Linked DNA regions of Homo sapiens: region 1 is linked to region 2. Evidence: fine-mapped expression QTL. A gene starts in region 2. The other region holds a variant in brackets. All regions are shown on one strand. Distances are from middle to middle. Region 1 holds the start of HHATL-AS1 (HHATL antisense RNA 1). Region 2 holds the start of HIGD1A (HIG1 hypoxia inducible domain family member 1A).

Evidence for each region. PIP is the estimated chance that this variant, and not a neighbour inherited with it, causes the effect. A credible set is the group of variants that fine-mapping cannot tell apart.
Region 1: its variant is the best candidate, but not a certain one, in a credible set for the expression of HIGD1A in sigmoid colon (GTEx, PIP 0.56).

What each region holds. Positions count from the first base shown.
Region 1 is chr3:42,701,528-42,717,381 of GRCh38, reverse strand. CCDC13 (coiled-coil domain containing 13) reads left to right here. Exons shown (of 16, transcript NM_144719.4): 14 at 4,066-4,220; 15 at 7,584-7,698; 16 at 8,243-11,626. The coding sequence ends at 8,402. It overlaps HHATL-AS1 (HHATL antisense RNA 1), which reads right to left and starts at 14,841. Exons shown (of 3, transcript NR_146957.1): 1 at 14,653-14,841; 2 at 13,150-13,233; 3 at 10,617-11,335. HHATL (hedgehog acyltransferase like) reads left to right here and starts at 14,584. Exons shown (of 12, transcript NM_020707.4): 1 at 14,584-14,803. RefSeq lists a silencer at 15,799-15,854. The variant A/G (reference allele first, on the strand shown) is at 6,781.
Region 2 is chr3:42,793,457-42,808,861 of GRCh38, reverse strand. It overlaps HIGD1A (HIG1 hypoxia inducible domain family member 1A), which reads left to right and starts at 4,372. Exons shown (of 4, transcript NM_014056.4): 1 at 4,372-4,426; 2 at 14,587-14,705. The coding sequence starts at 14,609. It also overlaps the pseudogene MIX23P4. RefSeq lists an enhancer at 2,538-3,335 and a silencer at 4,197-4,416.

The DNA.
Region 1 (15,854 bases), 92 kb after region 2:
TGATCTCGGCTCACTGCAACCTCTGCCTCCCGGATTCAAGCAATTCTTCTGTCTCAGCCTCCCAAATAGTTGGGACTACAAGCACCCACCACCATGCCCAGCTAATTTTTGTATTTTTAGTAGAGATGGGGTTTCGCCATGTTGGCCAGGCTGGTCTTGAACTCCTGACCTCTGGTGATCCACCCGCTTCAGCCTCCCAAAGTGTCGGGATTACATGCATGAGCCACCATGCCCAGCCAGTAACCTCTTTTCTATGAATTTGCCTATTCTAGATATTTTGTATAAGTGGAGTCATGCAATATTTACCCTTTCGTGTCTGGCTTATTTTACTTGGCACAGTGTTTCCAAGGTTCATCCGTATGGTAGCATATGTCAGAACTTCATTCCTTTTTATGACTGAATAATATTTTATTGTGTGCATGTACCACATTTTGTCAATCTATTCATCTGTTGATGGACACTTGGATTGTTTCCACCTTTTTGGCTATTGTGAATAATGCTACAAGAACATTGCTGTACAAGTACCTGTTTGAGTCCCCGTTTTCAATTTGAGAAGTGGAATTGTTTGATCATAGGGTAATTTTATGGTTAGCTTTTTAAGGAGCCACCAAACTTTTCCACAATGGCTGCACCACTTTATAGTCCCACCAGCAGTGTACAAGGGTTCTAATTTTTCTATATCCTCACCAACACTTATTTTCCTTTTTTTCAATAATAGCCATCCTAGTAGGTTTGAAGTGATATCTCTTTGTGGTTTGGATTTGCATTTCCCTAATGGCTAATGATGTTGAGCATCTATTTATGTGCTTATTGGACATTTGTATATTTTCTTTGGAGAAACACAAGTCTTTTGCCTACTTTTTAATTGGGTTGTTTGTCCTGTTGTTGAGTTGTAGTAGCTCTTTATGTTTTTTGGAAATTTTTTATTGTTTCAAGCCACTATTTGTGGTAACTTGTTATGCAGCAGTACTAATACATTTACCCTATTATTAACTGGGAAATCAAGTTTTTTGTAAACTTATAGGAAGCCATCTATTTCTTCTATATTGTGGAATTGTCAGAATAGCAAAAATCATTGGTTCCTTGGAGGTTAGATAGAACTTTCTTGAGAACCTGGCTTGACCTGATTTTTTTTTTTTTGGAGGTAGATCTTTGACAACCTTTTTTCAAATTTAGATTTTCTGTGTCTTCTTGAAGTAATATTAGTACATCTTGTTTACTTACAGAATTAAACATAATAATGCTTATGCAGTGCCTTAACACAGTAGTTGGTATGTGGAAAGCACTCAAAAAAAGTATTAGCTGTGCTGTTGTTATAAGATTTTTCTCCTTGTCCTGGAGTTCAGGTATGTTACCCAGCTGGGTCCAAGGATGTGTCTTAGTCCATTTTGTGTTGCTATAACAGAATACCACAGACTGAGTAATTTATAAAGAAAAGAAATTTATTTCTCACAGCTCTGGTGGCTGGGAAGTCCAATATCAAGGTGCCAGCGTCTGACAAGGGCCTTCTTGCCGCATCCCGTGGTGGAAGGCAGAAGGGAAATGGCATGGGGAAAGTTGAAGTGGGGACAAAGTTATCCTTTATCAGAAACCCACTCTCATGATAACTAACACACTCCACTACTGACCAGTGGAACTTTCTGTGATGATGGAGTTGTTCAGTATCTGCACTGACCAATACAGTTTAAGAACTTGAAATGTCACTAGTGTGACTGAGGAAATGAATTTTTAATTTAATTTTCATAAACTTTATTTTTTTTTCTTTTTGTTACAACAGAGCCTCGCTCTGTTGCCCAGGCCAGAGTGCAGTGGTGCGATCTCGGCTCACTGCAACCTCTGCCTCCCAGGCTCAAGTGGTCCTCCTACCTCAGCCTTCCAAGTAACTGGGACTACAAGCACACGCCACCGTGCCAGGCTTATTTTTGTATTTTTTGTTGTAGATATGGGGTTTTACCATGTTGTCTAGACTGGTCTTGAACTCCTGGACTCAAGTGATCCACCCACCTATGCCTCCCAAAGCACAGGCGTGAGCCATCGTGCGTGGCCTGAAATTTAATTTTTTTTTTTTTTTTGAGACAGAGTTTCGCTCCTGTTGCCCAGGCTGGAGTACAATGGCACAATCTCAGCTCACTGTAACCTCCACCTCCCTGGTTCAAGTGATTCTCCTGCCTCAGCCTCCCAAATAGCCGGGATTACAGGAGCATGCCACCACACCTAGCTAATTTTTTTTTTTTTTTTTGTATTTTTAGTAGAGACGAGGTTTCACCATGTTGGCCAGGCTGGTCTGGTCTCAGACTTCTGACCTCAGGTGATCCACCCACCTCGGCCACCCAAAGTGCTGGGATTACAGGTGTGGGACCCCGGGCCCAGCCCCTGAACTTTAATTTTAATGGCTACATGTGGACATGAACCTCGCAGTCACTGTGTTGGGCAGCACAGCTCTATCATATTCTATCACGTTCTATAGTATGAATATGTTACCACTTACTTGTTTGTCCCCTGATGATGGGCCTTTAGGTTGTTTTGGGTTTTTGCTTTTGCAAATAAAATCTCAAGGAATATGCTTAAATATGTGTTAGTAGCTGTTTACTGTGTTACTATACAGCTTTTTATTAGTAGTTGTATACTGTTCAAAATTGTTGTCATTCTGTTCCTTTTGACCCTTCACCAAGGTGGAAAGATCACTTCCTCCAACACTGTCAGTTTCAAGGCTGCCCCTCTAATTTTCAGGTGTGCATGTAACTCTTGGCTTGGGTTAGATCTCAGGGAGTTCTGGCTTTCTCACTAAATGAACCTTTAGTATCATAGAAGTCTGAAATGGCACACCTAGCCACAGGAAGGACCTAAGCTCAAGCTCCAGTGGGATTAAACAAGTGCTTCATGTGAAATAACATTTATGACAGGCATGTAGAAAACAAAACAATAAGCTTAAGATAATCACTAACTCCAAGAAAAGCGAACAATTAAATGAGAAAGGACATATGACACTGTGCGTCATGGCTCTAACTAATTGTCCTAACGTAGACAGGCTTTTGGTGTCTATGCCCTTTGCTCCCTGCTGTTATGCCTGTGAGTGCTTTATGTTACATGAAAAAGAGATTTTGCAGATATGATTATTGTTATGGACCCTAAAATGGAAAGATTATCCTGGATTATCTGGTGGGCTCAATGTAATCTTTTGAGCCCTTAAAAGCAGAGAAATATCTCCGTCTGGGATTATTCAGAGAGTTGCTGTGGAGGAAGTCAGAGAGGGTAGTGAGATTCAAAGTGTGTTAAGGGTATCTAGCTGGCTTTAAAGATGGAGGGGGCAAGGTGGCTCCTAGAAGGTGAAATTGACCAGCAGCCTGCAGGGAACAGGGACCTCAGTCCTTCAACTACCTGGAACTGGATTCTGTCAACACTCTGAATGGGCCTGAAAGTGGATTTTCCCCCGGAACCTCCAGATAAGAGCCCAGGTCAGCCAACCCCTTGATTTCGGCTTGTGAAACCAGAAGCAGAGAAACCCACTGAGCTTGCCAGGCCTCTGACTTACAGAACTGTGAGATAATAGATTTGTGTTGTTTTAAGCTGCTAAATTTATGGTAATTTGTTATAGCTGTGATAGAAAACTGATACCTAATATCAATTCATCCAAAAACGTATACAGGTGATTCTGTTTCGTAGGAGGAGAGTACTAAAATAAAACTAAATTCTTATTTTGCATGACAGGAAGTCAAAAGATTATATTTAAACCTTATATAAACCTAAAAATAGCAACATAAGCATCTGTAGAAATATGGCAGTAAATATTAAAAGAAACAGCTAGAAGTGTTATAAGTGATTGCTTTTAGAGAGCAGGAATTGGGAATGATGGGGCTGGGAGTGGGCTGATAATTTTTAAATTTTAACCTTGGAGAGAACCATATGGTGTTTAAATGCATGTTCCTGTGTTACTGCAATGAAAATGAAGAGGTCCCATCACTACCAATGTAAGATGTGCCCATCTCTCTAAGGGCCTGAGCAAGTGGGGTAGGGCCTGCCCCTGCCTGCCAGGGCATGTAGCATCCCCTCCTCTCTAATCACCAGGGTGGAGGAGAGCAACAGCAAGCTCCTGGAGTCAGAGAGGAAGCTGCAGGAGGAGCGACACCGCACCGTGGTGCTGGAGCAACATCTGGAGAAGATACGCCTGGAGCCAGGGAAGGCATCAGCCTCCCAGAGAGCAGCTCCCAGGACCAAAACAGGTAGGGGCCAGGGCAGTAGTCTCAGTGCAGGGGGTGGAGGCAGTGTTGCTGCTAACAGAGGAGCCAGGCAGCTGCACTGTTCAGCCCATCAGTGAGCATGTGGGAAGCAGAGCTTCCATCAGGGTGGAGCTCTGCCTGCCTCCACTGTGGGGTGTTCTTTTCCCCAGGCCTCTCAGTCAGAAGCAGGAGCCCCAGAGCTCCATTGCCTCGTGTGGCCCTGGCCTGGCCACCTGTAAGCCCTCAGCATGAGGTGGCAGTGCTGAATGCCCCCAGCCACCCTAGCCCTCAACCCTCTATCCTAAGCTGACTTCATTCAAAGTGGTCATGGGGCACAGCTGGTCTGCTGGGGAAGCCCAAGCAACAGTGGCTGAAGCAGGGGAGGAGTCCCTTTGTGCCTCCTGCAATGGTCAAGTTGATATAAGCAGGAAGTAGCCTCACCAGAGGTTTGGGGACCCAAGCTCCCTCTGTTTTGTGGCTCCACTGTTCTCAACATGCAGCTTCCATCTTCTGGTCTACAATGACTGCCTGAGCTTTCCCATCAGCAGCAGGAAGGGGAGAAGGGAAGGAGACAAACTTCTCCTTACCTTTTACGGTTGCATATGTCACTTCTGCTCTCATCCCATCAGCCAGACAGTTGGGCATAGCCAGGTGCAGAGGGAAGCTGGGAAATGCTATCCTTAACTGAAAAGTCTATCGCTCGAACACAGTGGTTCTCAAGGTGCAGTATTCAGATGAGCAGCATCAGCATCCTGTGGGGCTGGGGCGAGCTGGAGGATGCCAGAGCCAGAAGCCATTTCTGGGATGGCTGACTCCCAGGGAGGAAGGGTCTCCAATGTGGAGGGGCTGGGCCTGCCTCTGTCTGACCTCCCATCCCACCCATCCCAGCCCCCTCCAGGCTGGAATGCTGGAGGTGCTGCTGCCCCCACTGCACCCTCTTTCAACACCCCAGTAGCCCCCCAACCCCTCCCCAGCCAAGGATGGTCAGACCCTTGGTCTCAGTCCTCAGCCCAGATGAGGTCAGAACGTTTCAGAAGGGTGTGCCAGAAGTAGGGCATAAAGAGGGTGTTGGGGCCACTTGCTTTCTCTTCTCCCACCAGCAGGGCCAGGAGCTTCTGAGAATCCAGGCCGGGAAGGAAGGGTCTCTGGGGCTTAGCCTTGCTGACCCTCTTGGACTCTCAGGAATATGTTCCCTAGGAGTGTGGCTTCTCCAGGCTGGGGCTTACCTCCTGTAGGGCAGCAGGACTTCCAACCAGGGAGAGCTAAGCCACAGCAGGCAAGTCACTTTGTTCCCTGCTGGACAGTGAGGGCAGCTGCCTGAGGGAAAGTGTCCAGGTGGCCTCTGCTGCCTACTGGCTTTTAACATGGGCAAAATCCTGCCCCTCTGGTGAGCAGAGCACCACTTACCCGCCTCCCCCTGGCCCATCCGTAAAATGAGGAGGCTAGATTTATAATTCAGTCCCCCATGGCAGTCTCACTCCAGTAGGGGAGCTAGACATCTGAGCAGAGATGGAGGAACTGGGAGGGGATGTGGCCTGCCGATCCCTGAGGGAAAGACAAGTGTCGGTGCTTGGAAGCTTAGCTGGATGCTTGGAGGAACAGGGAGGAGGCAGGGAGGCTGGAGTGGTCCAATCACACAGGGCCTTGAGAGCCAAATAGAATTCACTGAGGCTGCCAAAGCTCTAGAGGCATAAACTATTATCCTTTTTTTCAGCTAAGGAAACCAGCTCAGAGAGGCTGATAGTTTGCCTGAGGCCTCTCAGCAGAGGGCGAAAGCCAGGTCTTCTGATACCAAGTAATTTACTGTGGGTCACACCACCTCTGAGGGCCTTTTCAGTCCCGAGGTTTTCTGATGCTGTGATTTTGCCCAAGTTCGCCACCACCAGTTGAGCTTTGTCTTTTTTTTTTTTTTTTTTTTGGAGACAGAGTCTCACTCTGTCCCTCAGGCTGGAATGCAGCGGTGCGATCTCAGCTCACTGCAACCTCCACCTCCCTGGTTCAAGCAATTCCCCTGCCTCAGCCTCCCAAGTAGCTAGGATTACAGGGGTTCGCCACCACACCCTGCTAATTTATGTATTTTTAGTAATGATGGTGTTTTACCATGTTGGCCGGGCTGGTCTTGAACTCCTGACCTCAAATTATCCACCCCCCTAGACCTCCCAAAGTGCTGGGATTATAGGCATGAGCCACCGCACCCGGCTGAGGCTCTTTTTGATTCCCTGTGTCACAGGGCTTAGAAAATTCCATCAGGCTGAACAAGCAGTTTCCCATCCAGGGCAGCTCTAGTTGGGGATGTGGAGGTGCTCAATGCGTGGAATAAGCCAAGGGCAGCTTAGCAGTGTCCCCTGGAGCCAGGAAAGGCCCTGAAGAACACTCAGTCCAGCCCCTGTAGAGGGCAGAGCCACTCTGCTGCCTCCCCAGCAATGAGACAGGTTTACACAAGACTAGTCTTGAGGTGCATGCCTCCATGCCTGGCTAATTTTTATGTATTTTTAGTAGAGACAGGGTTTCACCGTGTTGGCCAGACTGGTCTTGAACTCCTGACCTCAAGCAATCTGCCCCC[A/G]CTTGGCCTCCCAAAGTTCTGGGACCACCCCACCGTGGGCCACTTTGTCTCCTTTTTGTGAACATTCTGTACCCTTCAACTCCAGGACCCTGGATCCCCTGCTTCCTAGTATGAAGCTGATGGCCTGGATGGGGACCACTGGTATGAGGGCATCAGGTACAGTGACAGTCTAGACTCGGGCTCAGCCTGCAGGCCAGACCTCAGGCTCAGCTGGTTTCTCTTTTTGAAAACAAATTACCAGGCTGGGCATGGTGGTTTACGCCTGTAATCCTGGCACTTTGGGAGGCCTAGCCAACATGATAAAACCCTGTCTCTGCAAAAAATACAATAATTAGCTGGGCATGGTGACAGGCACCTGTTGTCCCAGCTACTCGGGAGGCACAAGAATCGCTTGAACCCTGGAGGCGCAGATTGCTGTGAGCTGAGATCACGCTACTGCACTCCAGTCTGGGTGACAGAGCAAGACTCTGTCTCAAAAAAAAAAAAAAGAAAAAAAAAAGAAAACAAATTACCAGAAACTTGTAAAGTATAAAGATGGAGACAGGGTGGTGAGGAACCACCCTGGTACAAAGCGAGCAGAGTCAGGGCTGTAGCAGAGGCCAAAGCCAGGGGCAGAGGCATGCAGAGGAGGCATCAGGGAGGGCTTCGGAGGGAGGCAGAGCTCAGAGTTGCCCTGCACCCCGAAGGCGGTGTAGCGTTTCACCATGTGGAAGAGCAGGCAGTGGGCAATGGCGGGAGGAGAAGCAGGGTGCTAGCACAGGGCTGTGGCCTCCTCACAGAAAGTGGTTGCTGCTGCCCCACAGGTCTGCCCACCTCTAACAACAGGCACAACCCAACCGGGAGCGAGAAGAAGGACCCATCCTTTGCCCAGCTCTCCGATGTGCCCGTGGAATCCCAAATGGAAGAGCTGACAACCAGGTGCTCCCCTGCCCCGCCTTCCTGAAAGGGTAGGGTTGTCTGAGCAGAGGTGCCTCCATGGGCAGAGGGACTGTGTCCCTCCCCTTGCACTTTTGACTCATTTGCCCAGAAGGCTTGTCCTGTTTGGTCCTGGGTTCTAGGCCTGCAATTCAGGGACTGGCCTTCAGAGGACAGAGGGCCCGGCCCAAACCCCAATGACCCATAGTCCAAGAGAAATTTTATCAAGCATGGATCACTGAACCAGTTTCTCACTACGTTAAACCTTTTAAGACCCCACGCAGCCATGGGAAGGGAAAGACGGGAACCTCTACAAATTGGAACTCAATTTGTAAGGGGCCTTGAGGTAGCTTACATTGCAGGGAGCCAGGCCCATAGAGAGGAATCCATGGTACCCACAAGAGTCAGTGAGAGGAGGGGATGGGTCAGAGGGAAGCCTGAGCCTGAAGAGCAGCCATGCTGGCAACCACATTCCCAGGGCCCTCTGTCACCCACGCACACCTGTGTGCAGCTCCAGCCACACTGAGCACTGTCTCCTGTGGTCCAGGCTGGCCATCCAGGTGGAGGAGAATGAAATGCTAAAGGCTGCCCTGGGCAGTGCCCTGCGGGGAAAGGAGGAGGACTTCCGGATGTACCATGAGATCCTGGGCCAGGTGAAAAGTGTCTTCCTGCAGGCCCTGCGGCAGCAGAAGACAGGCAAGCAATAGGATGACAGCCCAGTGTCGGCCTGGCCGGGTGGGCAGCCTCAGGTCTTGAGAGGATAAGACTCTGTCTGAGGACTCCATCTGCTCCGGGAAGCCAGCCCAGGGCAGCCAGCTCAACCACTTCTACCAGAAGAGGCTCCTTAAGGATGACCAAAACCAATGTCTCAGGCCAGGAAGGCAGAAGAGAAGCCCTGGTGGGACACTGCAGGAGACCCTGGGCTGGCTGGGTTACAGCAGCAGGGAGGCCCAGCAGCCCACTGGCAGAGGCGAGAGCTCTGGGATGGCAAGGCGGCTGTGAATGGACAGATGCAGTCCCTCGGGCAGGTGTTCATCGCCCTCATCCTAGGTACTAGCCCTGGATGTCCCCATGGCTTCACACACAGAAGAGCCCTTGGTTACCCTAAGTGGGCATATCCCCCATGCCACTCAGCCCTGCCCTATCCCCTCACCCCCATCCCGGCTCCATCTGTAGCCGTCCACACCCTACACAGACTTGGGGCACTATGCTCTCAACCAGTTTGTCAGCCCACTCCTCAGGACACTTCCTCAGGTGCAGACCCTTGGACTTGTAATAATAATAAGTATTTTCATAATCACTGCAGCTCCCAGTGAGTGAGCATCTACTGTGGCAACCTGACCCCATTCAGTCCTCTAATGACCCAGGGGTTTGTTGTCTTATTTGACAGATGAAGAAACTGAGGTTCACAGAAAGAAGCTGAGCTAATATTTAACTGCAGTCTGCCTGACCCCAAAACCAGGGTCTTGCCGTTCAGAGATTACCCAGGGTAGGCGCACCCACCCACCACTGAACAACCCCACCCCTAGGCAGCAGCTCCAAGAGGCATCTTTGTTTGCTCACCAAGACTGCTGATGGATGCTGGTGGCAGAGGGCCGAGGTGGGGCTCAGCTGGAGCTTCAGGCAGAAGGGTTTTGAGGTAGTGGCTCCAGTCAAAGGTACAGTGCACCTCCCTCGCCATGGTGAACTTGGAGGGATGCTGCAGGGGCACCCTAAGATCCGCAGGCCTCTATGACTGTCAGTGTTGCCCTTTCTCAGCTGTAACTATGCACTTATAGCTACAGGAAGGAGTGGCCCCAAGGAGGGTCACTCATAGCCACACACCCCAACTCCGACACCCTGGCCACACAGGTGCACCCACAGCCCCACACAAAGATGCAGATGCACACACATACCTCAATTCAGGAGCATGCAACTGTACGTGCACACAGGCACCTCCATGTGTGCACACTCATGGACACACAGGTGCAGATGAGCACACACATGTGGATGTGGACACACATTCCCACACGTGAAGACATAGCCACTTGTGTGTTGCTTGTGCAGTGATGCACAAATGCAGGTGCACATACTGTGAAAACACCCCCTTCCCCAGGAAAAGCCACTGGGGCTCCTGCGAGCATCTTGTCAGCTCCTTCCTTGGAAAAGCCACTGCGGCTCCTGGGACCCTGTCTTCTCAGCCCCTTCCTTGGGGATGGGGCTATGGAGGGACCCTAGCTGGCCCCCACTCCTCAGGGAGCCCCTGACCCTGCATGGGGTCACACGGATCTAGAGATCCCACAGCAAGTTAGAGCAAAGGCCACCGGGATGAACTGATGATTCTGGTGGGGTCCTAAGGGTCTCTGGGAAGGAAGAGTTTTTCTCTGGTTCCTTGTGAAGGAAAACGGCCAGGCAGAGAGCCAGGAGAGAGAGGGTCTGTGCTTGGAGGGGACAGTGTGTGACAGCGAGGGGTGGGCTGGATGTAGAGTCTGAACACAGAGGAGTCAGCACCTTCTCCTGCAGGCCCTGAGGAGCTCCAGAGGGTGATCTGAGTATGAGGGGTACAGGCTCTGGCCTCAGTGCAGTCCCAGGGAGTGAGAAGCAGGCATAGGATCAGCCATCCTTCCTCAAGATCACCTCAGGGAAGTGCAGAGATGGTGTGACCCACACTCCAGCCACTTCAGGGTGGTTCTGCTGCCCTTCCTGGGCTATGCCTGAGAAAGGAAGGAGCATTAGGTCATGGAGTCTGGACAGGTGGGGCTGCCTGGGGCATACTTCTCTCCCCACTTACCAGCTGTGTGGCCTTGGGCAAGTTATTTAACCTCTCTGATCCTCCACATTCTCATCTATAAAATGCAGACAATAATAGAATCCTCCCTCAGGGGGCTGTTATTAATATGTATGTCAAAGAATAACCCAAAGACGTTTCACTAATTATTAGCTCTCTGTTTATTTCTGTACAAGGAACATGTATCTATAGACTGATTTCAACAAGAGTTATATAAGAGAGAGGGGAAAGAAAAACTGCAGACAGGCAGGCACAGGAAATCTTGTTTGCACATTTTTGGGTAAACTGATTTGCTGGTGTCTTGCTTTGGCCAACTCTGTATATAAAGATGAGTGTTTCAGCTTTCAGATTCCACGGGCAACCTTGACAGCATTGCTGTGGTGCCATGTGCGGGAGTGCCTGTCATGTCTGCTGGCACCTACCACCGGGCACCTCCCCACCCCTAGCTTGGTTAGATCAGGTCTGCTCCATTCCCTCATTGGAACCCTCTGCAGGGTTCACTGAGATAAAGTGTCCATTGCTTACAGCAGCTGCTCGCACACAGTAAGCGCTTAATAATTATTCGCTCTTAGTGTTCCCTCCATTTGTTCAACCAGAACTTGTTGAGCAGTTCCTCTGCCCCAGGCACAGAGGTGCCGAGGTGAGGCAAACACAGTCCCTGGCCTCCAGGAACTCTCAGATCAGCTGAGGAGAGAGACAGACTGGTCACAGGTCACCATTCCATCCAGCCAGTCGGCCACCAGGCAGTCAGTGAGTGCCAACAGCATGCCAGCCTCTCCAGGCCTGGGAGGGACCTAGAGGTGAATCTGACTTGCTTCCTCCTTTCAGGGAGTTTCCAGTCCAATCAGAGGTGTGGGAAACGCCATGATGGAGCTGGGTGGGGAAGGATGCAGGACCGGGCTGCAGCACCACAGGGCTTCCCCCACCATCCCCACCCCATCCCTGTGGCAGTTCCCAAGTTCCCAACCTCCTTGATCAGATCTGGGTAGAGAGGGGGCTTCACATCTCCCTGAGGCAAAGGAGCAAGGAGGAGTAAAGGGAAGGTGGGGAGAGCCTGGGAGAAGGATTTTCAAGGGAAGGAGGTCATCAAAGGGGTCAAAGATAGGGACCCTGAGAAACCTAACTTAGGTGGGCCAGGTGCACAGCCAGGCAGCTGGTCTGTCCAGGTTAGTACCAGTGCCTCTCCTGGGTAGCACCATCTGTCCTGGGCACCCTGAGGATGACCTCCCTGTCCCTCAGGCAGGTGGGCAACAGGTGTGCTGGATAAGACACCAAGGGCCCTGGCCAGATCCACGAGGAGGTAGTTGGAGGGGAGGGTGCAGGTGCCCTGGCGGGTTGAGGGGCAGGGGCAAGTAAAGAGTTAAGTGGTGAAGTTGCCTCAAGTGAGGGCTCTCCCTGCCACACCCCAGGCAGGTGCTGCAGGTCTTGGTGCTCAGGTTCCAGCACTGACAGGTGAGACCTGGCTGAGCTGTGGACGTAGTTTGGCCACTGTCCCCACAGGGGCCTCTGGGGCACCACAGCTGAGCTGGGCAAGGTTGCAGCCTGGCTCAGGCTTAAACACACTACATTGTCACTGGGCCCCTCCCCTGCTCCCAGGAGCCCAGGGCAGGGTGACCTCCAGTGGGTGTGCTCCTCTGCACCCCCACACCCAGGGGCCAGAACAAGCTTCTCCTCCCCACCCCCAGCCAGCCCACAGCCAGCCCTGAGCACAAAGAAGTCGGCCTGCCCACCTTCTCCCCACAGGTGTGCCTTTACGTACACTGACTCTCCTATATCTGTGAGCCTTGCACACACACAACACACATATACACACGTATGTACGATACATGTGCACACACAATACACAGGATACACATACACAGCAAACACATGCCATGAACAACCTACAACACAAAACGTACACACAGACCCACACACAACTGATACAAAACACAGTTGCACACGTACATGCAAACACACAGGATACTTTCCTCGCATTTTTACTTTGAGCAACAACCAAACAAAAAAAGTCTGAAAATTGAAAAGGGACTCAGATTTGAGAGAATTGTCCCCACTCCCCACCATATCTTTCCTAGTGGCCCTTGTGGCATTTGGGAAGCTGGCCCCAGGGCCAAGTGCTGGTCTTAGCTCAGTCAGCTTCCTGTCCCTCACGTGGGCTGGCCTTGCCAGGTGCCCTCCCCTGCCACCCCCCTCAGACACAGTGGAGCTGGCCTCAGGCTGTCCAACCACAGATCCATGGGACTTCCCTAGCCCTCCACCCCTCTTGCCATTTCCGCACACCACACTCCCTGCAGACCCTGCTGTGTGTGGGTCACCCAGGGAAGGCCTCACTTCTGAGTGTGAATCCAGCCTTTCTGGGCCTCTGGGGGTCAGGGTGTCTGTGGCTCTCTAATAGCCTCTGTTTATGAGCAAGGCTCTTGTCATGGAGTGAATCACCGGATGCCCCCTGCCACCCCAGTGAGGGCCAGGGCCAGCGGTATGCCCATTTTACAACTGAGGATCTGAGGCCCTAAGAAGTGGGTCACACCAGCTCAGGGTCAAGTAAATTGGCTGAACCTGTGTTCTTAACTCTGGGGTCAAACCACCCTGTCTGCTCCCTTGAGCCATTTTCTTGGAGCCTCGTGAGGGCCCCAGTGTGGGTGCACGGGGTTGTCGCCCCTGCAGGGCAGTCAGTGCCAGGAGCTTACAGGGCTGATCCAACTACTTGGCTTCCTCATGTGCCAGGTCCTTCTTCTCCCAACTGCGTACAGTGGCAACATCTTCCCTATGGGCTGTGGTGACATTAAAAAGTTAATCCATGTACATCCTGGCTACTATGATTAACTTACTCCTAACAACCTTTGACTACCCCTCCCTGAGGAAGCCCTCCTTAACCCTGAAGTCTGGCTCAGGTATCCTTCCCTTCCTGATGCTGGCCTCTCTAGTGCCCATTACCCACCACAGCTCTAACCCAGCACCCACACTGTGCAGTAGTCACCATTCATGCTTCTCAGGGTCGGGGACCACAGACACGGGCCTCTGTGTCCTGTGTGGAGTGTGTAGGTTGGGCGTCTCCTTGCTGTTCTCCAGGCCAGCGTGTCTATGTGCTCGGGAGGCAGCTCCCTGCCTAAGTGCAGTCTCTCCCCTTCCTGGGCCCTGATGGGTGGGGAGCAGCACCTCCCTCCTGCCTCCTCAACTGAGCCTGAAGCTGGGGTCATAGGATCAGCAGGGGCTCCAGGAGCTGTCCTGTGACTGATCACAGCCACAAAGCTCCTTCTACCCCCGAGAGCCTCCCCACAAGCACACAGGTGAACAGGTCCCCCTAGATAGCACAGACACATACAGCTGCCCGAGACTTGGCCTCAACCGAAGGGGCACTGTCAGAGGTTCTTAATCTCAGGGGCACCTTCAGGATGCCCCTCCCCTCAGGTATCCAGGGCTGAGGCCTTGGATGCTCCCTTCCAGAATGAGGGCCCTGTCCTACCAGGACTCCCAGTTGGTTAGGAACACACCTGTCTTCCTGTCTGCCTCCACTCTGCCACCGAGAGGATACCAGCCATTCCAAGTACCCACAAGCCTTGCCAAGTGACCCTGCTAGCACCCCTCCATCCAGGACACTCCCTATGGGACAGGGCTGACTTATGGGGATCCCTCTCAGCCACATGTCCCATGCCAGTTCCAGTCCCATCAGGCAAGTCAGCCCTCCCTCAGGCACTGATGCATGGCCAGCCAGGACTCACGGCATAATGAAAAGGACCAGGTCATGGGGCGAGACAAGTCTGCCCTGGGATAGCCCTTAGGAGGTCATATGTAAAGGTAGGAGCTGGAGTCCCTGGAGCCCAAGCATGAAAGTGTTTGCATGTTGTGACTGTGTGTGTCTGTGGTGGGGGCAGGGCTTACAAGCCTGGAGAGGCTGGTGGGACCACCAGGAGTCTTCCTGGAAGAGGGAAGTCCTGGGTAGCAGTGAGAGAGAGGCACAGGCTCTCTAGGAGCCAGGGGAGGCAGGCTGAAGAGAGGCCCAGGTGTCCCTGTCTGAGCCTATGCTACTGGACACCCTCCCCCCACCCAGCACCCGCCCCCCTTCAAGGATCCTCCCTGCGGCTCCCTGTGGCCAGCAGCTCTGCAGCACTCGGCTCTGCTCCACTCTGCTCAGCTCCGCTCCAGGAAGGCCACCTCCTCCTCCCCCTCCTCCTCCCGCTGTCACCACTCACCGCTCATAACCTCAAGGGGGTGGGGACCCCAGGGCTGGACACACCCCACCGTGGCCCCAGAGCTCAGCCGGTCGCACGGACGGACAGTTGGAAGCCGGACCCCAGAGCCTGAGGTGGGCAGTGTGCCAGGGTCCCTTGCGGCCTCCTCAAGGTCAGTGCCAGCTGGGGATGCAGCTACTCTGGGGCTCTTGAGACTTGTGGGGCACACCCCAGGCCCTCATCCCAAATCACAGGCCCCAAAAGGGGCTTTACCCCCGGGGCATCTGGGGCAGGCAGGACCAGGGGAAAGGGTATGCCCCCGTGTCCACAGGCCAGCCCTGGTCTGGGGGTCTATCAGGAGAGGCCCCAGGCTGGGGGCCAGCTCCTTGCAGAGGCCTCACTGGGGACACCCCGCACCGGCCATGGGGAGCTAAAATTGGAAAGTGGCGAGTGGGAGGCAGCTGACAAAGCTATTTCACGGGCTCTTCACCATGCTCCGGTTTCAAGCTCCTGCTCCATTAACCTGATCCCCAGGGCCTCTCCACCCCCACCCAACTGATGAGGAGGTGCCTCCACCCTCAGGCCGACAGCACAGCCATCAGGCTGGCAGCCTCTGCTGTGGGCAGGGGCAGTGGTGGTCTTCTCTTACCCCAGATTCCAGAGGGGGGTCACTGAGAAACCCAATCCTGAAGGGAGGCAGGCAGAAGTCTGTCCCAGGTCTGCCATGTGACCTTGACAGGTCCCTGCCCCTATCTGGCCCATGACCCCTCCATCTGTACGAGGAGACCGTCGGCTGCTGGGGGGCCCAGGGGAGATGGCTACAGGGCTGGGGATGAAGATTTAGGGGAGGATCAAGGGTGGGCAAAAGGGCCACATCAGCCACCTCTTGGCCCCGTCAGCCCAAGAGTTGCCTGGACATGTTCCCTGCTTCCTCCCTTTAATTTGGGTCCTATGTCTGTATCCATGGAGTCCTTGGGAAGCCCCTGAGCCAGGCTGAAGCGGGATAGGAAGGGTAAAGGTGCTAGCTGAGCCGTAGTACGGCCCAGCAGTTCTCCAGGGGACAAGCTAGGCCCCCGCTGGAGGGAGTGGTGAGACTCAGCCGGGGCCTGATTCTGGTCAGCACCTTGGACAGCAGCCAGTGCCCTCCCTGGCCCCGCCTGGCCCCGCCTGGCCCCACATCCGCTACTCCTGGGCACCTCCTCAAATAGCACAGCCTCCAGCTG
Region 2 (15,405 bases):
CAGCCTTGACCTCCCAGGCTCAAGTGATCTGCTCACCTCAGCCTCCTGAGTAGCTGGGACTACAGAGGCACACCATCACACCCAGCAAATTTTTGTATTTTCTGTAGAGACGGGGTTTTGCCATGTTGTCCAGGCTAGTAATTTTCTCTTGTTAACCTGTCTTTTGTTATAGGAGTGTTAGCTGTAACGCTTATGATGGGAAAGAAAGGGATCATCCCCTTTCCACCCCTACACTGCCTCTGTTTATGTTTTCTCCCTTAAACTGACAGGGCTGGTACACTTTTGTCGAAAGATGGGACTTTTTTCTCCTAAATTCAACCGTCATTCAAACTGGGTCAGACTAATGACAATTCTACCAAGTAGTGTATACCAGTAGCCTCAATAAAGAGATTTTGGGGGACAAATGTGCATCTTCCACACAGTTGTAGCCATAGAGTGCATATCTAACTTCCTTAAATTATCTATGTGGATCTGTCATCCTATAATTTGTCTAAATCCTTATTTTTTAATATTATGAATAGAGTCCAGCTTATATATAAAAATGTATTTCCTTTCTATGTCTTAAAAATTACTTGCTGTTGAGCGATACTATATTCCTAAAATATAGCGGAATCAAAATTCCTAGTTTACAGTCCTCTACCTCTATTACTTACTAGCTATTTGACCTTTATACCAATCAATCATCAGAGATGATTGAACCAGAGCAACTCCATCTTGAATAGGGGCTAGGTAAGATAAGGCTGAGACCTACTGGGCTACATTCCCAGACAGTTAGGCATTCTAAGTCACAGGATGAGATAGGAGGTTAGGCATTCTAAGTCATAGGATGACATGGGAGATTGGCACAAGGTACAGGTCATAAAGACCTTGCTGATAAAACAGGTTGCAGTAAAGAAGCCAGCTAAAACCCACCAAAACCAACATGGCGACGAGAGTGACCTCTGGTCATCCTCACTGCTACACTCCCACCAGCACCATGACATTTTACAAATGCCATGGCAACATCAGGAAGTTACCCTATATGGTCTAAAAAGGGGAGGCATGAATAATCCACCCTTTGTTTAGCATACAATCAAGAAATAACCATAAAAATAGGCAACCAGCAGCCCTTGGGGGTATTCTGCCTATAGAGTAGCCATTCTTTTATTCCTTTACTTTTCTAATAAGCTTGCCTTCACTGTACTCTATGGATTCGTCTAGAATTACTTCTTGCAGGAGATCCAAGAACCCTCTCTTGGGGTCTGGATTGGGAGCCCTAATAGTAATTGGTTTAAAAGGTGCTTATACTTACAGCTTCAAGGGCAAGGTCTGACTCTTTTTGCACAGTACACAGCAAGGAATTTTTAAAGCAATAGCTAACATTTTTCATGCCAAGCATGGGGCTAACATGCTACATATATTTCCTCTTTAACCATCATTCATGTTACCCCCCATTTTACAAGTGAAAAAAGTGACACTTTGAGAAATCAAATCCAAGGTCACGGCTAGTATGTTGCCAACTAGTTGCTCTCCGCTGATGGGGCAGTATATCTTATTCTCTGGAAATTAACAAGTTAGCTGATGTTAGTTTGAGGCATATACATTGCCTTCAGAAATGAATATGCTTTGGTCACTGCTGCCATTAGCCTTTGTGTTTACAGAATCAAGAGACTAATGACTTCCGGTTGACCTTCATATTGAAGGCAGTGGGGTTTATCCTATAGTTCCTGACTATCCCTACTTATCTTTTAAACCCTCCAGTTATTGCAGCATTTACATCTTTCTTCATTTACCATTATTGAATTTCTATTGAGCACACAGGCAGCATTCAAGGAGATACCAGGATCATCCAGACAAAATATGTGCCTTCAAGGAGCTGAAAGCTACCATATAATCAAAGTATGAAGTTCTCTCTTTTTTTTTTTTTTTTTTTTTTGACAGAATCTCTCTCTGTCACCCAGGCTGGAGTGCAGTGGTGCGATCTTGGCTCACTACAAGCTCCGATTCCCGGGTTCACGCCATTCTCCTGCCTCAGTCTCTCCAGTAGCTGGGACTACAGGTGCACGCCACCACACCCGGCTAATTTTTTGTATTTTTAGTAGAGACGGGGTTTCACTGTGTTAGCCAGTATGGTCTCGATCTCCTGACCTGGTGATCCGCCTGCCTCAGCCTCCCAAAGTGCTTGGATTACAGGCGTGAGCCACCGTGCCCAGCGAAGTATGAAGTTCTTAATCATCCATAGCATGAAATGTTTCTTACATGTATCTTAATTATGAGATGAACGATTTTCAAAATCCTGAGCCCATGACATTTAGTTCCTATCTGTATGACGAGCACTTGGTAGTCTGCCTTGTTTTGTGGTTATATCAAGAAACTCTAACTTAATCACAGATTTCTCCATGGTGCAGTTGTAGATGCTTTGCATCTGAGGACTAAGCTCTGATTTTTTTTATCATGCCCAAATTCCTATCTAAGGGGTCTGGGGAGTCATGCCCCACAAATAATAAGTTATCATCAAATGGGTTTTATTTAACTCTATATATCGTGACTTACTTTCCAACTTGACTCTGGCATAACATTATAAGACAAGGAAGAAAATAAAAATATTTTACCCCAAAACATATTTCTTTGCCATATCTTGAAATGGCCATACAAAGCTGTCCTTTGCGGGGAAAAATTCTCATCTGTAAAGAATCCCTATAACATAGCTAGATCTTTTTCTTCCAGGCCCCCCAATCCTAAAGAGATTAAAAGTCTAGCACCTTTCAAACATCTGAATAGGAAACATTTGTCATCTATTGTCTCTAAAGGCAGCCACTACAAGACTTCAAAAGAACCTTGGTCTCCACAATCTTTTATCTTAACTTGAACATTCCCTTTCTGTTGATCCCAGGTCTTCAGACAAACTCAACCAATTATCAACCAGAAAATGTTTAAATTTACCTATAGCCTGGAAGCCCCCTCCCCTCTCGCCTTTGAGTTGTCCCCCGTTTCTGGACCAAACCAATGTATTTCTTAAATGTATTTGATTGATGTCTCATGCCTCTCTAAAATGTATAAAACCAAGTGTGCCTGGACCACCTTGGGCACATGTTCTCAGGACCTCCTGAGGGCTGTGTCAGGGGCCACGGTCACTCACATTTGGTTCAGAATAAATCTCTTCAAATATCTTAGAGTTTGACTTTTTTCGTTGACCCACCAATTGGCCGGATTATTACTCATTATTTACTTGACAAACACATTAGGAGCCCTGTCCCCGGAAGCTCGCTGTCACGAGGGGCCTCTGACATCTCCTTCTTGAGAGAAAGGTCGCCTGGCCTGGGTGAGGTCGTAGTTCCCGCGACCCCGTGCTTGCAAGTACTGGCTGCCTCCTACTATAGTGTAAGCTCCAGGAAGGATCCCGCGGGGGACCTGACAGCTCACGGTCCTGGCCGACAACCGCCCTGGGAGCGGAATGGATGGAGCCCGCAGTCGTCCCGGCGCACTGGGCAAGCTCTGCTCCCACTGTGGCAGGCCAGATCTCCATTAGCAACCAGAGCAGCTCTCACCAACGCCTCACTGTCATTCTGATGCATGTATAAGTTAAACATTGGAGAAACTGGTGCCTTAGGAGAAAGGCTAGAATGTAAAGACAAGTCCATTAGGATCCCGCCTGAGCTTTTTCAACCCCTAGAGTTTAATTAAAATAATGGAGTTGTTCTTGCACACCTTGTACCAGGACCCACTTTAGATTATTTCCAAGGCTCTGAAGCAATTGTCTAGACACCTGACCCTATTACCGTTAAAGATTGGCTTGAGTGAAACACTTTGGCTTTCGACTTGTAAATGCACTGAATGTATTTAAGCACTAGAAAAACTTGTATTAATAATTTTGAGTTGGTCTGGTGAGTTACTCCGACCTTCTCCCTGTAACCTGTTGCAGAAATAAACTCCGTTCTTTCCCAGTCTGTCTGCATCTCGTTACTGAACGGCGAGAACAAGCAGTCGGACCCGGGTGGGTCGGGGAACACAACCTCACCCGCAGCCGAAACCCCTCACCCGCATCCCTTCCCGGCCCGTGAGGCGTCCGCAGGCGGCGGCGCTCGGGACACGGCGTTCGCGGTGCTCGCCTCCGCTGCCCGAGGGGAAAAGGGCAGGAGAAATCTGAGGAGTCCTTGGGCCAGGAGCCAAAGCCCCTCAAGTGCCCGGGCGCGAACCCCAGGCGCCGAGCTCTCACGTCTGTCTCCGCCAGTACGCTAGAGCCGGGGTAGTGGGCCAGCACTCACCGGCCCAGCCAATCCAGGACCCGCTCTGCACTGCCCCACCCGCCGCGCACACGCACGCGTCCTTTTGCGGCCGCTGGCCTCTGATTGGCTGGGACGGCTGTGGGTGGGGAGAAGCCGGGAGGACTGGGTGCGCCTGCAGGGATCGGAAGCCGGTTGGGGTGTGAGAGGTTTTCTCGCTCTAGGTAAGCGAAACAAGCCGGGGGACTGCGAGCCAGGGACTCGGGCCGCGGGGCGGGAAGAAGTGGGGCAGCGCTTGGCCAGGCCGAAAGGACTTTGGGGGTGGGGGCTGGGAGTCCGTGTCTCGAATGAGGGAGGAGAGGTGGAGTTGCCGGGGCTCAGGCCCGGCCTCGAGCATGGGCGGATGAGAGGAGTCGGGAGCCGAGGCCTAGGGTCCTTCGGGTGAGGGGAGACGGAGCCAGCGAGGAGATGGAGCAGAAGCTTGTGGAGTGAGTTGCCGAGCGGGGAAGACTCGCTGATGGGGTGGTAATGAGAGACGGGGGCCAGGAGGGTGTTGACTGGGCCCGACGGCGGGGAGCGAGGAGCGGGAGCTTCCCCGGAGCTTGGAACATTCTGAAGAGCGGGCTAAGCGGCAGGCGAGGCGGGATAGGAGAGCGAGCGCTCCGGTCACGGAGTCACGACAAGGTCACAGGAAGAGAGGCGGCGAGGAAGGTCGGGAGGTTGAGGGGAGGGCGTACTAGCAGAGGACCTTCCAGTCCTGGTCTTGCTTTTCTCCCCGACCTGGTGTTTCCTCCACCCTGGGAAAGTGATAAGGCCTAGGGTCCTGTGTAGTGCTTCTGTGACCGAATTAAATTTTTCTCCTGCCGAGTCGGCGGGTTAGAGATTACAAAGCACAGCGTAAGGGCAGAATTAGGAGCAGCCGACATGATGCAGCAGTGATATTCGCCTTTGTCTTAAATTCCCGGAGTGGGAAGCAGCTATTTCCCTCTTCGGAGTAATCCCCACGACAGGGATCCCTGCTTCCGGAAGTACAAAGGCACTTTGGAGTAAGACAGGTTTGGATGGAAAGTTCTAACAGGTTGAAGCGGTGACAACCTGGTCATGAAGCTCCAGCATGACACACATATTTGGAGTCCTGTATACTAGGAGTTCTCTTTGTGCACCAGAGTCACTTGAAGGGGCTTCTTAAAGATTCCTTGAGCTCTGCCCCAGACCACCTGAATCCGGATCTCCATGCTGGGGCCTTGGCAGCCATTTTAAACAAGCTGATGGGCGACTGATGCAAAATCAGTTTGAAGCCAGCGTTGCTTTAGATAGTAATTCCCGTGACAAAATGACTGTGAAGAAAGATCCTTCATTCAACCTGTTACGTCTCCTGATGCTGGACGGCTCATCTTCCCTTAATGCCTCTTTAGGTTCCCTGTGGAAAGGTCTTCAGTCGTGTCTTACTAAGCGTACAGAATTAATTTGTGCTCTCCAAACTGACTTTAAATATCTGGTTACTGGTGCCTTTTTTAGCGTCTATTCAACTTTCTGACAGAAATCTGGGACAACTACTGTGGGTGGATGAGAAAACGATAATGAAGGAAAGTCTGGCAGTGGTGTAGTGAAAAAAGTCTTTTCAAATCACAATTGAAATTGTTAGATGAGTTAAGTCACTGAAGAAGATTCCGTTTACCTTAGGCATGATTTTTTTATATATATCATTCAAAGAGAACAACGTGGGCTTCTGTTGAGTAATGGATTCTTAAATTTTCTAATCAGAATTCTTATCTGCCAATTTAATCTAATTTACATCAGCAGCGTAAGATTGATGCTTTGGCAATATATCGTCAATCAAAAGAACCCAGGACTCTCTATCAGAAGAGCTGGATTCTAATCCTACCCCACCAGACATGTATTCCTTGTACTGAGCAATTCGTATAACCCTCTCACAACCCTTTCCCCACCTGTAAAATAAGGCTATTGGCTTGGATTATTCATCTGATTTGTTACTCTCAAATTATATGATTAGAACTTATTGTTCCTGATACTTAACCAGTTTTCAATTCAGGTGGCTATAAACCATGAATACTTTGGAAACTTCTACGTGGTAATTAGACAGTTATCAAAATTTTGTATTCAGAGAGTATTTTAGATATGTACTATATGGGAATTATAATATTTTGACTACAGAATAACAAATAACTGATATGTGTTGGATTTTTAAATATTAATCCTTACTAATTTTATTCTGAAATGTACACATAAGGTATTCTGGAATCACAGACAGATTATCATCTGTCGTTTCAAGCAAATAATGACCATTTTGTTCCCCACACCCTGATGCTTACCGCAGGGGCTACTTTCTGAAACCCAGGTCAAATGCCCTATCCATACAAGCTTCAGAGTCTGTATCATAGATGAAGAACGGAGAAATAGGTTTTCTTCTGTTCTTGATTTATATACAGGAAAGAGACAACTAACCCCCTCCCTCCTGAAAGGAGAAAAAAAAAAAAACCTTTTGCTCCATTGACCTGTTGGAGAATTAGAGTCAGCCAGATGTGAGATAATTATAAGAAAAACTACCAACTTTCTTGCTATTTTTAAAAAACGATTTATGTCCTGTTTTTGTTTGTTTGTTGGGTCCCTCAGCAAGGGTCTTGCCTGTTGCCCCGGCTGGAGTGCAGTGGCTGGATCATGGCTCACCGCAACCTCCACTTTCCAGGCTCAAGCAGCCCTCCTGCCTCAGCCTCCTGAGGAGCTGGGACTACAGGTGTGCACCACCATGCCCGGCTACCAACTTTCTTGCTTTTAAAGACAATTCCCAAATGATTTTTTAGTTTAGAAATGATTCAGGCAAAAAAGGGGAAAACATGCTTTTATATCTGCAGAAGTTTTTAGTTTTTAAAAGTGGATTATGGTATATAATAGTTTTGTCCCCTGTGTTGCAAGGAACTAAGACCTCAGGTTATTTCTCTTTTCATAGGTACAATATAAGAAACATAAAAGAAATAAGCACTTAGGTACATACAGTTAGGCATTTTTCTTACTGATTAAACTCTACAAATCTGTATGATTGTTATTTTTTTGTACTCAATATTACTGAATAACCTAAGAATGCTTTCAGTTGTTGAGAAATGTAACTTTTAAATGTATTCAAGAAACATTTGTAGTGTACATATTATATATAGGGTATTGCACCAGGCAGTGGAGTTGGATACAAGCAGAGCAGGTATTGGTCCCTGACTTGAAGGATTCTAGCAAAAGAAACAGACAAACTGGTGCTTATAAGGGTTATAAGGAAAGTACAAGGTCCTATGGGACTGCATAACCAAAGCACTTACGAACTTAAAGAGACAAAAATTTCTGAGAGGAGGTCAATTAAGATGTGAACCTGAGTCCAGTATGGTGGCACCCAGTGGCAGTGTGAACTGTGAGGAGTTCGCCGAGTTCCAGGAATTACTCAAGGTGATGTGGACAGTTGATACAGACTAGTACATTAATTAAACACTACAGTTCCAACAGCTTCCTTTGCAGGGAAGATTGATGCCAGCCAAACCTGTAAACAACTTTGAGTCTTTGATGGCAGCTCATGCCAGTAGGGACAGAGTCATAAAAAACTATATAGCCCAGACCTCAGCAGTAGTAAAAAACCTCTGAGAAGAGAGAGAAAAGAATTTGGACGATTTAATATTGTTAAAGCAACTCAGAACAGAGCAGGCAAAGTTGAAATGGATGTAGTCAGAATGATAAATGACAGGAGCTGGAAGGAGTTTAATGAATGCTGCCGAATTCACTTCAAACCTCCAAATAAACAGAATAAACGGAGATACTTTTTTTTTTTTTAAAGGACCGGGTCATCTCATAAGAGCTAAGCATGACAAATGTCAACAGGGCGGGCTTCCTAGGATGATTTCTGAGCCAGTAGTCCAAGACCTTTTGTTGATTTCAGCCCCACTTAGGCAAGACCTCAAATATAAATAATTCTGATAATTATGGAGAAATCAACTGCTATTTTATACTGATTCTGTTAAAAAAAAAGTTTTGTAACTATTAAAATAATGTTCTGACTCAGTGTAAAAAAAGAAAAACCAAACCTGAAAAAAAAAATGGGAGGAGTTAGCTAGGAAAGAGTATCTGAAGGGGATGGAAAGGGAGGGAAACTCTCACAAGTAGAGGAATCAGCTTGTGCAAAGGCTTAGAGGTATAGAGAGCATCTTAAAAATATTTAATGTGGTCAGAATGTGGGGTTGGGAAGGGAAATGAAAGGATTTGTGATAAACTTCCCCTTTGAGAAGGTCATGTTTTTTTTTTCTTTTTCTTTTTCTTTTTCTTTTATTTTTTAAAATTTGAGACAGAGTCTCTCTGTGGCCCAGGCTGGAGTGCAGTTGCACAATTTCAGCGCACTGCAACCTCTGCCTCCCGGGTTCAAGCGATCCTCCTGCCTCAGCTTCCCAAGTAGCTGGGATTTCAGGCATGCACACCACTATGCCCAGCTAATTTTTGTATTTTTAGTAGAGATGGGGGTTTCACCATGTTGACCAGGCTGGTTTCGAACTCCTGACCTCAAGTGATTGCCCACCTTGGTGCCCCAAAGTGCTGGGATTACAGGCATGAGCCACCGCACCTGCCCGAGAAGTTCATGATTAGATATGAAGGCAACTAGTAAACATACTGGCCTAAAATAAATACAGTGTTTAATCTCTCTATCCAGTCCATTTATGCAGTTTCTTCAAAGCCAGTCTCAAGTGTTTCTCTGTGAAACGTGCCAAACCTCCTTTAGCTAAAATACATCACTCTCTCTAAATTCAGACCTTGTCTGTGTTAGGCTTTTGACAACTAATTACACTGTGATTGAAACCACCATTGCAAAATTATAACTGAGACAGTGAAAGAGATCTGACCTAGCCAAAAAAAGATGGAGCCAGGCATGATGGTTCACGTCTATAATCCTAGCACTTTGGGAGGCTGAGGCGGGCAAATCACTTGGGGCCAGGAGTTTGAGACCAGGCTGGCCAACATGGCAAAACCCCATCTATACTAAAAATACAAAAAAAAAAAACCAGGCATGGTGGTGCACACCTGTTATCCCAGCTGTTAGGCTAAGGCACAAATCACTCAAACCTCGGAGGCAGAGGTTGCGGTGAGCAAAGATCGAGATCGTGCTCCAGCCTGCGTGGCAACTAGACCCTGTCTCATAAAACAAAAATAGAAAAATAAAGCAAAGATGGTAACAGCCCTTTCCTAAAACAAACCCCCTTCTTGCCTGGGGACTAGACTGCCTTTGTAGGTTTAATGAATTAGCCACAGATTAGAAATTATGGTTTAGGAGTCGTGCAGCTGGAAGTTATAAGATTCTTTTTTTTTTTTTTTTTTTTTTAATTTATTTTTTTATTGATAATTCTTGGGTGTTTCTCACAGAGGGGGATTTGGCAGGGTCATGGGACAATAGTGGAGGGAAGGTCAGCAGATAAACAAGTGAACAAAGGTCTCTGGTTTTCCTAGGCAGAGGACCCTGCGGCCTTCCGCAGTGTTTGTGTCCCTGATTACTTGAGATTAGGGATTGGTGATGACTCTTAACGAGCATGCTGCCTTCAAGCATCTGTTTAACAAAGCACATCTTGCACCGCCCTTAATCCATTTAACCCTGAGTGGACACAGCACATGTTTCAGAGAGCACAGGGTTGGGGGTAAGGTCACAGATCAACAGGATCCCAAGGCAGAGGAATTTTTCTTAGTGCAGAACAAAATGAAAAGTCTCCCATGTCTACTTCTTTCTACACAGACACGGCAACCATCCGATTTCTCAATCTTTTCCCCACCTTTCCCGCCTTTCTATTCCACAAAGCCGCCATTGTCATCCTGGCCCGTTCTCAATGAGCTGTTGGGCACACCTCCCAGACGGGGTGGTGGCCGGGCAGAGGGGCTCCTCACTTCCCAGTAGGGGCGGCCGGGCAGAGGCGCCCCTCACCTCCCGGGCGGGGCGGCTGGCCGGGCGGGGGGCTGACCCCCCCCACCTCCCTCCCGGACGGGGCGGCTGGCCGGTCGGGGGGCTGACCCCCCACCTCCCTCCCGGACGGGGCGGCTGGCCAGCCAGAGGGGCTCCTCACTTCCCAGTAGGGGCGGCCGGGCAGAGGCGCCCCTCACCTCCCAGACGGGGCGGCTGGCCGGGCAGGGGGGCTGACCCCCCCCACCTCCCTCCCGGACGGGGCGGCTGGCCGGGCGGGGGGCTGACCCCCCCACCTCCCTCGCGGACGGGGCGGCTGGCCGGGCAGAGGGGCTCCTCACTTCCCAGTAGGGGTGGCCGGGCAGAGGCGCCCCTCACCTCCCGGACGGGGCGGCTGGCCGGGCAGGGGAGCTGACCCCCCCCACCTCCCTCCCGGACGGGGCGGCTGGCCGGGCGGGGGGCCGACACCCCCACCTCCCTCCCGGACGGGGCGGCTGGCCGGGCGGGGGGCCGACCCCCCCACCTCCCTCCCGGACGGGGCGGCTGGCCGGGCAGAGGGGCTCCTCACTTCCCAGTAGGGGCGGCCGGGCAGAGGCGCCCCTCACCTCCCAGACGGGGCGGCTGGCCGGGCGGAGGGCTGACCCCCCCACCTCCCTCCCGGACGGGGCGGCTGGCCGGGCAGAGGGGCTCCTCACTTCCCAGTAGGGGCGGCCGGGCAGAGGCGCCCCTCACCTCCCGGACCGGGCGGCTGGCCGGGCGGGGGGCTGACCCCCCCACCTCCCTCCCGGATGGCACGGCTGGCCGGGCGGGGGGCTGACCCCCCACCTCCCTCCCGGATGGGGCGGCTGGCCGGGCGGGGGGCTGACCCCCCCTCACCTCCCTCCCGGACGGGGTGGCTGCCGGGCGGAGATGCTCCTCACTTCCCAGATGGGGTGGCTGCTGGGCGGAGAGGCTCCTCACTTCTCAGACGGGGCAGCTGCCGGGCGGAGGGGCTCCTCACTTCTCAGACGGGGTGGTTGCCAGGCAGAGGGTCTCCTCACTTCTCAGACGGGGCGGCCGGGCAGAGACGCTCCTCACCTCCCAGACGGGGTCTCGGCCGGGCAGAGGCGCTCCTCACATCCCAGATGGGGCGGTGGGGCAGAGGCGCTCCCCACATCTCAGACGATGGGCGGCCGGGCAGAGACGCTCCTCACTTCCTAGATGTGATGGCGGCTGGGAAGAGGCGCTCCTCACTTCCTAGATGGGATGGCGGCCGGGCGGAGACGCTCCTCACTTCCCAGACTGGGCGGCCGGGCAGAGGGGCTCCTCACATCCCAGACGATGGGCGGCCAGGCAGAGACACTCCTCACTTCCCAGACGGGGTGGCGGCCGGGCAGAGGCTGCAATCTCGGCACTTTGGGAGGCCAAGGCAGGCGGCTGGGAGGTGGAGGTTGTAGTGAGCCGAGATCACGCCACTGCACTCCAGCCTGGGCACCACTGAGCACTGAGTGAACGAGACTCCGTCTGCAATCCCGGCACCTCGGGAGGCCGAGGTTGGCGGATCACTCGCGGTTAGGGGCTGGAGACCGGCCCGGCCAACACAGCGAAACCCCGTCTCCACCAAAACCAGTCAGGCGTGGCGGCGCGTGCCTGCAATCGCAGGCACTCGGCAGGCTGAGGCAGGAGAATCAGGCAGGGAGGTTGCAGTGAGCCGAGATGGCAGCAGTACAGTCCAGCTTCGGCTCCGCATGAGAGGGAGACCGTGGGGAGAGGGAGACGGAGACGGAGACGGAGACGGAGACGGAGAAGGAGGGAGAGGGAGAGGGAGACGGAGAGGGAGACGGAGAGGGAGAGGGAGAGGGAGAGGGACGGAAGTTATAAGATTCTAACCCTCCCTAAAATGCTCCTAAGATCAGTGCTTGAGATATTTTGCAGACCCTGCACTTGATAGACCAACTGGCACCACCCAGATCAATAAACTGGCTCGTCTGATCTTATGTCCCCTACCTAGGAACTGACTCAGCACAAGAGGACAGCTTCAACTTCCCATTTCATCTCCAACCCAACCAATCAGCACTCTGTTCTCTGGCCTTCCCCCACCCACCAAATTATCCTTAAAAACTGATCCCTGAATGCTCCAAGAGACTGATTTGACTAATAATAAAAATCCTGGTCTCCCACACAGCTGGCTTTGGGTGAATTGCTCTTTCTCTATTGCAATTCCCCTGTCTTGGTAAATCAGCTCTGTCTAGCCAGCGGGCAAGGTGAACCTGTTTGGCGGTTACATGATTTCTCTTTTTTTTTTAAAAAAAAAAACAACAACTAATTTTTGAACGATTAATTACTTTAGTGTTTATATTGTATTATTCAGATATATAGTGAGTATCTTGAACCTTGAGCTTATTGAACCTTATATATAATAAAGCTCATTACTTAGGAGTTTATTCAGTTAAGAAGTAATGGAGTACAAAAAGAAGGTTTAAGTCCAATCTAAATTTTCTTTTATTTAGCTAAGATTTTCTTCTATGTCAGATGACAGTTGAGTCTTCTCAATGAAGGTGAGGCTTATAGGGATGAATTCACTTTCTAAACTAAGCACACCACCCCCTCCGGAGTTGCATTTTTGTTGAGGACCTTAACTGCCACTGACTCCCCTTGAGTAGCAAGGTGTTGAATGAGAGGTACTTTTATCAAAGGGAGCATAATGCACATGAAAAACCCAGAAGTGAAAGTAAGATTTTATATGGGTGTTAGGATGGGCATAGACTTTTAAGTTTATTGTAATTGACACTAATTAGAGACTTGTATGCTTACACTATGCTTCAGGCCCTTATTTTATCTGTGAGTAAAGTTTATTGCAATTCAAAATAGTTCAGTGAAGAAAGTATACTTTGTTATTGTGGCTAAAATGAAATAGCATTTGTTAATGCCTCATTGTGATAAAAGGGCTATTCACGGAGATGACTGAAAAGGAGGAAAGGAGCCTTTGATCCCTGTGATAATGAAAATGAATCCTTTTTTTTTTTTTCCTATCCCCTTACTCATACACTATCAGGCTAGATCTTGCCTTTGGGATACCATTTAAAGGAATTATAAAAAGAGGGTAGAGTTTTAAAAGGAAGCCTAGGGGATATAAGGTATGTAAATGAAGGCAGATCTGAAGCTTAGAAGATATTAAGAAGACCCTGAGGGTAATTCAGTTTTGTGCTGCAGTGATGTTAAAAGGTGCTAATCATAGGGCCAGGTGTGGTAGCTCATGCCTGTAATCCCAACACTGGGAGGCAGGTGGATCACCTGAGGTCAGGAGTTCGAGACCAGCCTGGTCAAGATGGTGAAACCCCATCTCTACTAAAAATACAAAAAAAATTAGCCAGGCATGGTGGCAGGCACTTCTAATCCCAGGTATTTGGGAGGCTGAGGCAGGAGAATCACTTGAACCTGGGAGGCAGAGGTTGCAGTGAACCAAGACTACGCCATTGCACTCCAGCCTGGGCAACAAGAACGAAACTCCATCTCAAAAAAAAAAAAAAAAGCTAATCATAAGCTGGCACAGTGGCTCACACCTGTAATCCCAGCAGTTTGGGAGGCTGAGGTGGGTGGATCACGTGAGGTCAGGAGTGAAACCCTGTCTCTACTAAAGAATACAAAAAAATTAGGCACGGTGGTGTGTGCCAAATGGAGGTTGCAGTGAGCCGAGATCGTGCCACTGCACTCCACCCTGGGCAACAGAGCAAGACTCAGTCTCAAAAAAGAAAAAAAACTAATCATAGGTCATTAAAAAAATCTAAAAGGCTATGAAGGAGACATTTCTACCAATATTTAAAATAAAAGCTTTGTTCTTAAAATGAGTAAATAATGAGCTAGGTAGAAACTTTGGCTATTCAGAATAATCTTTTCCCCAGAGGCAACCACCATGGATAACAGATTACTGTAATAGACTGGAAACTAATCTGAAGTGAAAATTGAAGCAAGGAAGCACATTGGAATAAATAAATCAGCAGTTGAAAGCAATAAAGACTGCATTTAACTACACCGAAAAGTGCTAAGTAGGATTTCCAACATGATATTGAAGGTTCAATAGGAGTTGTCAGTTTGGTTTGAGTAACTTAAAATTGTCAAGTTAAATAGTTGATTAAGGATGAAGATAGCCAGAAAATTAGTAGCTACTATTTTAATTGATAAAAGTAACATCAATTTAAAATTTTTCACTATTTTTAATTAACATGGTGCTAAAAATGAATGGGTTGTACAGGGGAAACGGCAAAATAATAGGGGGAATAAGTGTATACAACTCTCCCTTGAGAGTGACTGTACATTAAAAATACAGTTAATTTCTAAAAATATTTTTTAACTTTAGGATTATGGATAACATATACTAAGATTCTCATGGAAGTTAGGAATATTTTAAATACATCCAGATATTTAATAATGTTCAGATGCTTTTAATTACAGAACCTCATAGAAATTCTTTCTCAGGGAGATTCTTCAAGCAATCACTATGTCAACAGACACAGGTGTTTCCCTTCCTTCATATGAGGAAGATCAGGGATCAAAACTCATTCGAAAAGCTAAAGAGGCACCATTCGTACCCGTTGGTAAGTTTGACTGACATTTTAGTAGTCTTGAATATGGTAGAGCCGTGATAATTTGTTCATTTAGCAATATCCTGAAAGAATGTATTTTCCATTTTTTTCTTATGTTGAAATATGCTGAGATTGGCATGATATAAATCTCATCATAAAGATTCTTCTGTATGTATTCAGACTTTTTTTTTCTTTTTGGAGACAGGGTCTCTTTCACCTAGACTGAAGTGCAGTGGCTTGATCATAGCTCACTGCCCCCATCCCTCGACCTCTCAGGTTCTTGATCCTCCCACCTCAGCCTCCTAAGTAGCTGGGACCACAGGTGTGCACCACCACGCCCAGCGAATTTTTGTAGTTTTGTATAGACACGGGGTTTTGCGATACTGCCTAGGCTAGTCTTGAACTCCTGGGCTCAAGCAATCCGCCTGCCCTCAGCCTAGTGCTAGGATTATAGGCGTGAGCTGCCACTCCAGCTGAGACTTCTTATTTTATTGAGTCTTATTTCAGTGCATAATGTTGTATTGGGGGACCCCAAGACCATCCTCAGGTTAGATGATTGGGCCAAGACTCATAAGACTCAAAAATGCTTGTTACAGTCATAGTTTATTACAGCAATGGGATATAGGTTAAAGTCAACAAAGACATATAGAATGAAGTGTAGGATAAACCAGACACAAAATTCTAGGTGTCCCCTTCCCAGGGAGTCCCACAG